2 linked regions of the Homo sapiens genome follow. Changing the gene in region 2 together with the main gene of any one other region gives a genetic interaction. Each region holds a gene or a part of one and is shown on either strand. Other genes may lie near its edges. The genes, in order: CHEK1 and CDC14A.

Evidence for each region.
Region 1: changes in CDC14A (region 2) and CHEK1 are lethal when combined (synthetic lethality), as found in Homo sapiens cells (one large-scale study listed by BioGRID).

The regions. Positions count from the first base shown.
Region 1 is NC_000011.10:125,652,646-125,656,472, reverse strand, and holds part of CHEK1 (serine/threonine-protein kinase Chk1), read right to left. Parts: intron 2,728-3,827; coding exon 2,626-2,727; intron 1,249-2,625; coding exon 1,153-1,248; 3' UTR 1-1,152. UniProt on the Homo sapiens protein: Serine/threonine-protein kinase which is required for checkpoint-mediated cell cycle arrest and activation of DNA repair in response to the presence of DNA damage or unreplicated DNA.
Region 2 is NC_000001.11:100,498,849-100,502,675, reverse strand, and holds part of CDC14A (dual specificity protein phosphatase CDC14A), read right to left. Parts: intron 3,748-3,827; coding exon 3,414-3,747; coding exon of another isoform or gene 3,297-3,413; exon of another isoform or gene 3,216-3,296; intron 1-3,215. UniProt on the Homo sapiens protein: Dual-specificity phosphatase. Required for centrosome separation and productive cytokinesis during cell division. Dephosphorylates SIRT2 around early anaphase.

The sequences.
Region 1 (3,827 bases), on a different chromosome or scaffold from region 2:
CAATTTGCCAGTATACATTAATATGTGATAAACTCTAATCATAACATTCTACATGTTCTTGGCTTCAGATTAAAATAACTGATTAATTTTATAATGTTTTACAATTTTAAAAATTTTTATTAGAGGTAGGGTCTTACTCTGTCATCCAAGCTGGAGTGCACTGGTGCAATCATAGCTCACTACAGCCTCAAACTTCCAGGTTCACGCGATCCTCCTCTCTCAGCCTCCTAAGTAGCTGGGACTACAGGCAGGAGCCAAGGCCTCAACCTAATATGCCCCAAAGTTGATACAAATTTTATTAGAAAAACAAACTTTTTGTAAGTCTAACAGGTAAAGGAACAAAGAATCAGATCTATTTTTCTTATAGCTTCCTTACTCTTCCCTTCCCTCTTTTATTCTTTATCACCTAAAAGCTTGGTCACCAGTAAGTTGAAAAGGTTAAAATATGGCTATGAAAGTAGAAAATATAGAAAAATATTTAAGATGTTCAACAGTAATTTTTAGAGTAAAGTTAGTTAAGCACTAGAGTTTATGCAACACTGTAAAATACAAGTATTTTACTAACTACACTGGAAAAAACACCTACTTGCAATTTTAATTAATCATTATAATTCAAAAACAGGTTTATATAACTGGCCAGGCCCTTTTGAAAATATAAGTACAAATCTTGGGGATATGTTTTGAAGCTGGCTTCGCTTCACAGACTGATAAATCTACTGTCCAAAAGTCACAAGAATTATGTCTTTATTGGTTCATCTTAGAATTAAATCAACATGGAATATGTACTTTTTGAATTAAACAAAATGTTTTGATAAAAATGAGATACGTGTGTATAAAAGCTGGAAAACTCATGTCCCCTGAAACTTGGTTTCCACCAGATGAGTTTCAAATTCAGATACTAAACACACATGAAGAAATAATCAAATGAATTCTATTCATCCTTTCCCCAAAGTTTTGCTTACAATTAAGATATAGGTATTATTTGTATGCCGAACAAACAAAATAAATTGGAAGATGTTTGGATAAACAGGGAAGTGAACACTTCAGGAACTACTATTTGCAGTTTGCAGGACAGGATAATCTTCTCTAGGAAGAATAATGTCAACATAGCAGCACTATATTCACCAGGATTCCCCAGAGCCGATGGTCCGATCATGTGGCAGGAAGCCAAATCTTCTGGCTGCTCACAATATCAATCAGCTTCCCTTTAATCTTCAGGAAGTGTCTCTTGAACTCCAATCCATCACCCTATATTAGAAATAGTATTAAAAAATTATGTCAAAACAAAAACAAAAACAAAATTCTGTCCTAAAATCAATCTCTTTGTAGTGGTAACAAGAGACAAACATCTTTAGGTATGTCTAGCTACCATTTTCTTTTCGGTCTGTTTATGAAGACCAAATATCCTGGAAGAGAAAATTGTTACACAAATAATTCTGATGTGGTTTCATGCCCATCACTGTTCCTACTGCACTGAGCTCAGAGAGCAGATAAACATGGCATCCTATCTGTTTCAGGTGTTGGTATATCTGGACCTAAGTCATTACATTCCATAGGCAGTGAGGGTTTGGAAACTAACAATAAACTATACAACTAAACTGAAGTCTTGTTGTCATAACACTACTGACCAAAATCAATAGATTTAGTTATGAGAAGAATTTCATTATACTACGATCTTAATTTAATTCTGTAGCAAGCATCTGAAAAACAGTATTGCAGCAAATCTCTAATACAAAGAGTACTGCGGCAAATGCTCTAACACAGCAGCTACCCCTCCAACCCTCTTTAGAGCCACATACAATCTCTCAGAAAATAGAGAAAAATGTTATTTTGGTTTTATATATCAAGGGCTGTAATACTATCATCTTAGAATCAATGATTTCTAAAGAAATCATCAGAAATATGAACAAAAAAATCTATGCATAAAATAGCAATCACAGAATTATTATAACTGGTAAAGGTTCATTAAATTATAATGAAATATTTGTAACAAATCATAATTTTTATTAAAAGACATAAATTAAGAAAAATATTAAAATGCTTCGAAATATTAATGTGATCACTGAAAATTTAGAATTATTTTTATTTTCTCATTTTTTGCTTATCTACATTTTTCACAAAAGCAGAAATTTCTTTTTTTTGAGACAGAGTCTCTTGTATTGTCACCCAGACTGGAGTGCAGTGGCGTCATCTCGGCTCACTGCAACCTCCGCCTCCCAGGTTCAAATGATTCTCCTGCTTCAGCCTCCCAAGTAGCTGGGATTACAGGCACCCGCCACCACGCCTGGCTAATTTTTTGTATTTTTAGTAAAGATGGGGTTTCACTATGTTGGCCAGGCTGGTCTCAAACTCCTGACCTCGAGATCCACCCGTCTCGGACTCCCAAAGTGCTGGGATTACAGGCATGAGCCACCACGCCTGGCAAAAACTTTTATAATAAGGAAAATGTCATTTGAAAAAAACAATGTTCGGGAAAAATAGATAACGAAAACACATGCTCATAATATTAAACGAAAAAAGCAAGTAACCTATTTACAAATGCCACATATATACAAACATAATGCCATTAAAAAAATTCATATAGAAATATTTCCATAGAAAGAATACAATAAAACATAAAAATACCTTAGAAAGCCGGAAGTCAACCAATATTTTATCATCCATTTCTAACAAATTCACTTTGAAAATGAGTTTATTGTTTCTCCTATCAGTTGTTGATATAGTAACCTAAGGCAACAAAAATAAGGTTAAGCCACATGGGTGAGTAGATAATAAACTAGTAAACCCACTATGAAGAACAGAATAGAAGTTTCTCAAAAAACTACAAATAAAACTACCTATATGTTCCAGCAATCCCACTACTGATCCAAAGGAAAGGAAATTATATGGAAGAGAAATTTGCAACCCTACAGCATTATTCACAATAGCCAAGATATGGAATCAACCTAGGTATCCAACAACAGATGAGTGTAGGCCAGGCACTGTGGCTCACGCCTGTAATCCAGCACTTTGGGAGGCCAAAGCAGAAGGATCGCTTCAGACCAGGCTGGGCAACATATCGATACCTCATCTCTACTAAAATTCCCAAAAAATTAGCGGGCATGGTGGTGCATGCCTACAGGCCCAGCTACTCAGGGGGCTGAGGCAGAAGGGTCACTTGAGCCCAGGAGGTTGAAGCTGCAGTGAGCTATGATTGCGCCACTGCACTCTAGCATGGGCGACAGAGCGAGACCCTGTCTCAAAAAAACAAAACAAAAAGCCAAGCAAACAGATGAGGATAATATGATATATATACACAATGAAATACTACTCAGCCATATAAAGGAATGAAATCCTGTCATTTGCAGCAACATGGGTGGAACTGGAGGACATTATGTAAAGTGAAATAAGCCAGGAACAGAAAATTAAACATCACATGTTCTCACTCATATGTGGAAACAAAAAAACTGTTAATTTCATAGAAGTAGAAGGCAGAACAGAGGATACTAGAGTCCAGGAAGGGGAGAGGGAAGGGAAAGATAGAGATTCATGAAAGAATACAAAATTACAGCTAGATAGGAGTAAGTTCTAGACCACTGTAGGATGACTATACTTAACAATAATAGAGTTTCAAATTGCTAGAAGGATACTGAACATTCCCATCACTGAACATTCCCATTCCCACAATGTTTGAAATTATGAATATGCTAATTATCCTGATCTGATCATTATACATTATATGAATCAAAACATCACTACATACCCCATGAATACATTACAATTATTGTATCAATTAAAAAAAATTTGCTGGCTACCTCCATAACAGGAGTAATATTAAGTATGCTGAT
Region 2 (3,827 bases):
TTGTCAAGCTACCAATGCTACTGGCATTCAGCTATAAATGTGGATTACACAATACCTTTACGTATGTAATCTGCAAGGTATTTACATAGTCATGCATCACTTAATGACAAAGATACATTCTGAGAATGCATCCTTAGGCAATTTCATTGCTGTGTGCACGATAGAGTGCACTTATACAAACCTAGATGGTAGAGCCTGCTACACACCTGAGCTAAATGGTATAACCTATTGCTTCTAGGCTGCAAACCTGTACAGCATGTTACTCTACTGAATATTGCAGGCAACTATAACACAGTGGTAAGTATGTGTGTCTAAACATACCTAAACATAGAAAATAGACAGTAAAAATATGGTATAAAAGACTTAAAAATTGTACACCTGTAAAGGGCACTTACCATGGATAGAGCTTGCAGGAAGGGAAGTTACTCTGGGTGAGTCAGTGGGTGAGTGGTGAGTGAACATGAAGGCCTAGGACATTACTGAACACTACTGTAGACTTTATAAATGCTGTACACTTAGGTTATACTAAATCTATATTAAAAATTTTTCTTTCATGAATAATCAATTAACCTTAGCTTACTGTAACATTTTTATTTTATAAACTTAATTGTTTTAACTTTTGACTCTTTTGTAATAATACTTAGTTTACTATTTTTTAATGTTTTTATCAACTCCCAATCACTTGAAATTAACACTTAAAATAAGCATTGTATGTGTAACTGTACCAAGTATTTTCTTCCTTTACATCCTTATCCTATTTTTTTTATTTTAAATATCTTTAGTATTTACTTTCTAAATTTTTTGTTTAAAATGAAGACACAAACACACACATTAGCCTGGGCCTACACCAGGTCAGGATAATCAATATCACTGTCTTCCACCTCCACATCTTGTCCCACTGGAAGGTCTTCAGGAGCAGTAACACATGGAGCTGTCATTTCTTATAACAACAATGCCTTCTTCTGGAATACCTCCTGAAGGACCTGCCTGAGGCTTACAGTTAACTTTTGTTTTAATAAGGAGAAGGTGTATACTCTAAAATAACGATATAAAGTACAGTATAGTATATACATAGGCCAGTAACAGGTATTTATTATCAAATATTATGCACTGTACATAATTGTATTGCTAGATTTTTATATGGCTGCAGCACAGTAGGTCTGTTTACACCAGCATCACCACAACACATGAGTACTGCAGTTATAACCCTACGAGGGCTACGACGTCACTAGGCAATAGGAATTTTTCAGCTCCATTATAGTCTTATGGGACCACCATTGTATACATGGTCTGTTATTGACCAAAACATCATTAGGCAGCACATGACTGTATGATTATCTATATATCTCTAGCACTTTTTCTGAAAATGGAAAGATCTGCATTCTGATCCAAAAGAAGAGGCTGATCCACAATCGGTATGTGAAAATGCTGACTGAACTCAATGCCTGCTGGAAAGTATATGATTTATAAATATAGTTAGGAAAATGTAAATATATTATCTTTTTACATCTAATCCTTAGTTACATGGATTTAAGTTTTTATGATACCTATACACCCAATTTTTATAGTGGGATCATGGGATCAGAATCAGATTAAGGGGTAGATGGGCTGGCAATTTCCTGGGACCCTAATCTGTAAAAGAATCTAAACTAATGCCAAGGCCAAGCATGGTGGCTCATGCCTGTAAAATAGGACAGGGAACATCAGATATGCCAGGCTCCTCTTAGGGAATGGGTTGAGAGTGGACAGAGAGGGTAAAAGTTTTAAAAGAGGTCTCAGGTAGGGACAGGAGTGGTAATGAATCTAATGCAACCACACATGAACACACACACACACACACACACACACACACACACACACACACTGCATTCTCATGTTAGAAAACATCCTCATCCTCATGGTTTCTTTTTTTTTTTTTTTTTTTTTTTTTTTGAGAGTGGCTCTGTCACCCAGCTGGAGTGCCGTGGCACGATCTTGGCTCACTGCAGCTTCCACCTCCCAGGTTCTAAGGGATTCTCCTGCCTTATGGTAGCTGGGATTACAGGTGCGTGCCACCACGCCCAGCTAATTTTGTATTTTTTGTAGAGACGGGGTTTCACCATGTTGGCCAGGCTGGTCTCGAACTCCTGACCTCAGGTGATCCACCAGCCTTGGCCTCCCAAAGTCCTGGGATTATAGGCATGAGCCACTGAGCCTGGCCCATCCTCATGGTTTCTAAACTGTCAACTAAAGAAAGTAGATATCATTAAGAATGAACCATGGGGCTCCTGTTTTGCTGAGTGGGCCATACGCAGCACACTGCCACCAGCACCTTTCCTCCTCCCCTCTTCTCTACAGAAGCAGGCACTCCCTAGATGATGGCTGAGGAAATGTTTCAAGAATAGCAAGTGTGAAGCGACACCAGGCCAGAGCCTTCCAAGACACCCAGGGCTTGTTCATGCCCTGAGTACGATCAGTGTTGCAACACTGTATGTATATGTACCATGCTTCATATTTCCTTAATACATAGGATTGATTTCTCCTTCCTATTTGTCCTTGTTCCTCTCAAATCGAAACTCACATTCCTATAGATCTCAATACCCCTAGAGGCAATCAAAACAGGTTATTAAAGTAATTCATAATAGGAGTTTACCAACAGAGTTTACCTTACCAGGTATTGTTGATTGTTAAAGAGAGCTTGGTAACCTAAATAGAGATCTCATTGGTAAGATGTGTTTGGAGGTCTTCCCACCTTTCTCTAGAAGAGTGCTGGCTACTTTTAAACACCTTCCTGATACTCTGCTTGCTCCCCACCTTGCATCCCAGGTACCTACCTATAAGCCCTTCTTAGAAATATCTTCCACTTGCCACTTATTTTATTCTGGGTCAGTTCCTTGCAGGAGGTGAAATATTCAAGGGCCTAATGCTTAGTTCTAGGAAGATACTGTTCACTCAGCACCTTCCACGTTTCAATACTCCAAAATTAATTCACTGATATATGATGCGGAAAAAGCCATAATTCCCCAAACCAGCGCACCCCCAGCAAATGCTATCCACTGTATGAATCAGCTCCTGGCTTAGCACCAGATATTCAGAGTGATTGGAAACATAACTGAAAAGTAACTGAAGTCAACAATGCCCATAATCAAAAGAATGAAAGCTATTTCCCTTTTAAGAGAAACTACTTAAAAAGGAGTTGGGGGTAAGAAGAAAAAGAAGGAAGGAAGAAAACCCAGTTGTGACTTGGCGTTTACTTGAAGAGGAGCTAGCAGAATGTAGTGCATAGACAGTTTCACAGCACAGAGGGAAGGCATCGCTCAGAAGGCTTCCTTGGCACTATTAAATTTCTTTGGTGGCAGCCTCGGCTGGGAAGGCAAGGCACAGAAGTTGCATTCAGGGTTCTGAGGACCAGGAGGTGGTGTCTGCGCACTTACAGGGATAGAACGGCTCAGGAATCTCGCTGAAGAAGAAGAAAGCCCGGTGTAGGAGGGTCGGAGGATGGTGGTGTGCTCCTCTGTCTTGGCGCTGTGGGGGCCTGGGGGGCTGTTCAGGTTGCCCCCGTTGCTGTTGCTGCTTCTGTTGTACTGATTATTGTTGAGCTCAGGGTAATTTCTGGTAGTTGGCTGGGAGCTGCCATTCAAGAGGTTGGTAAACGGGCTGGCTGTGAAGCCTGCCTTAGAGGATGAGGAGGTCTTTTTGTTCTCTGGATCATCTGTTGCAGCATTCAAGTTCCCTAGAGAACTGGCTAGCCGGGAGTTTATGGAAAAGCTGAATGGAAAACACAAGTGAGGAGGGAAAAAACAGACAACAATGTACAATCACACAGAGCTCACGTTTCTAAAACACAT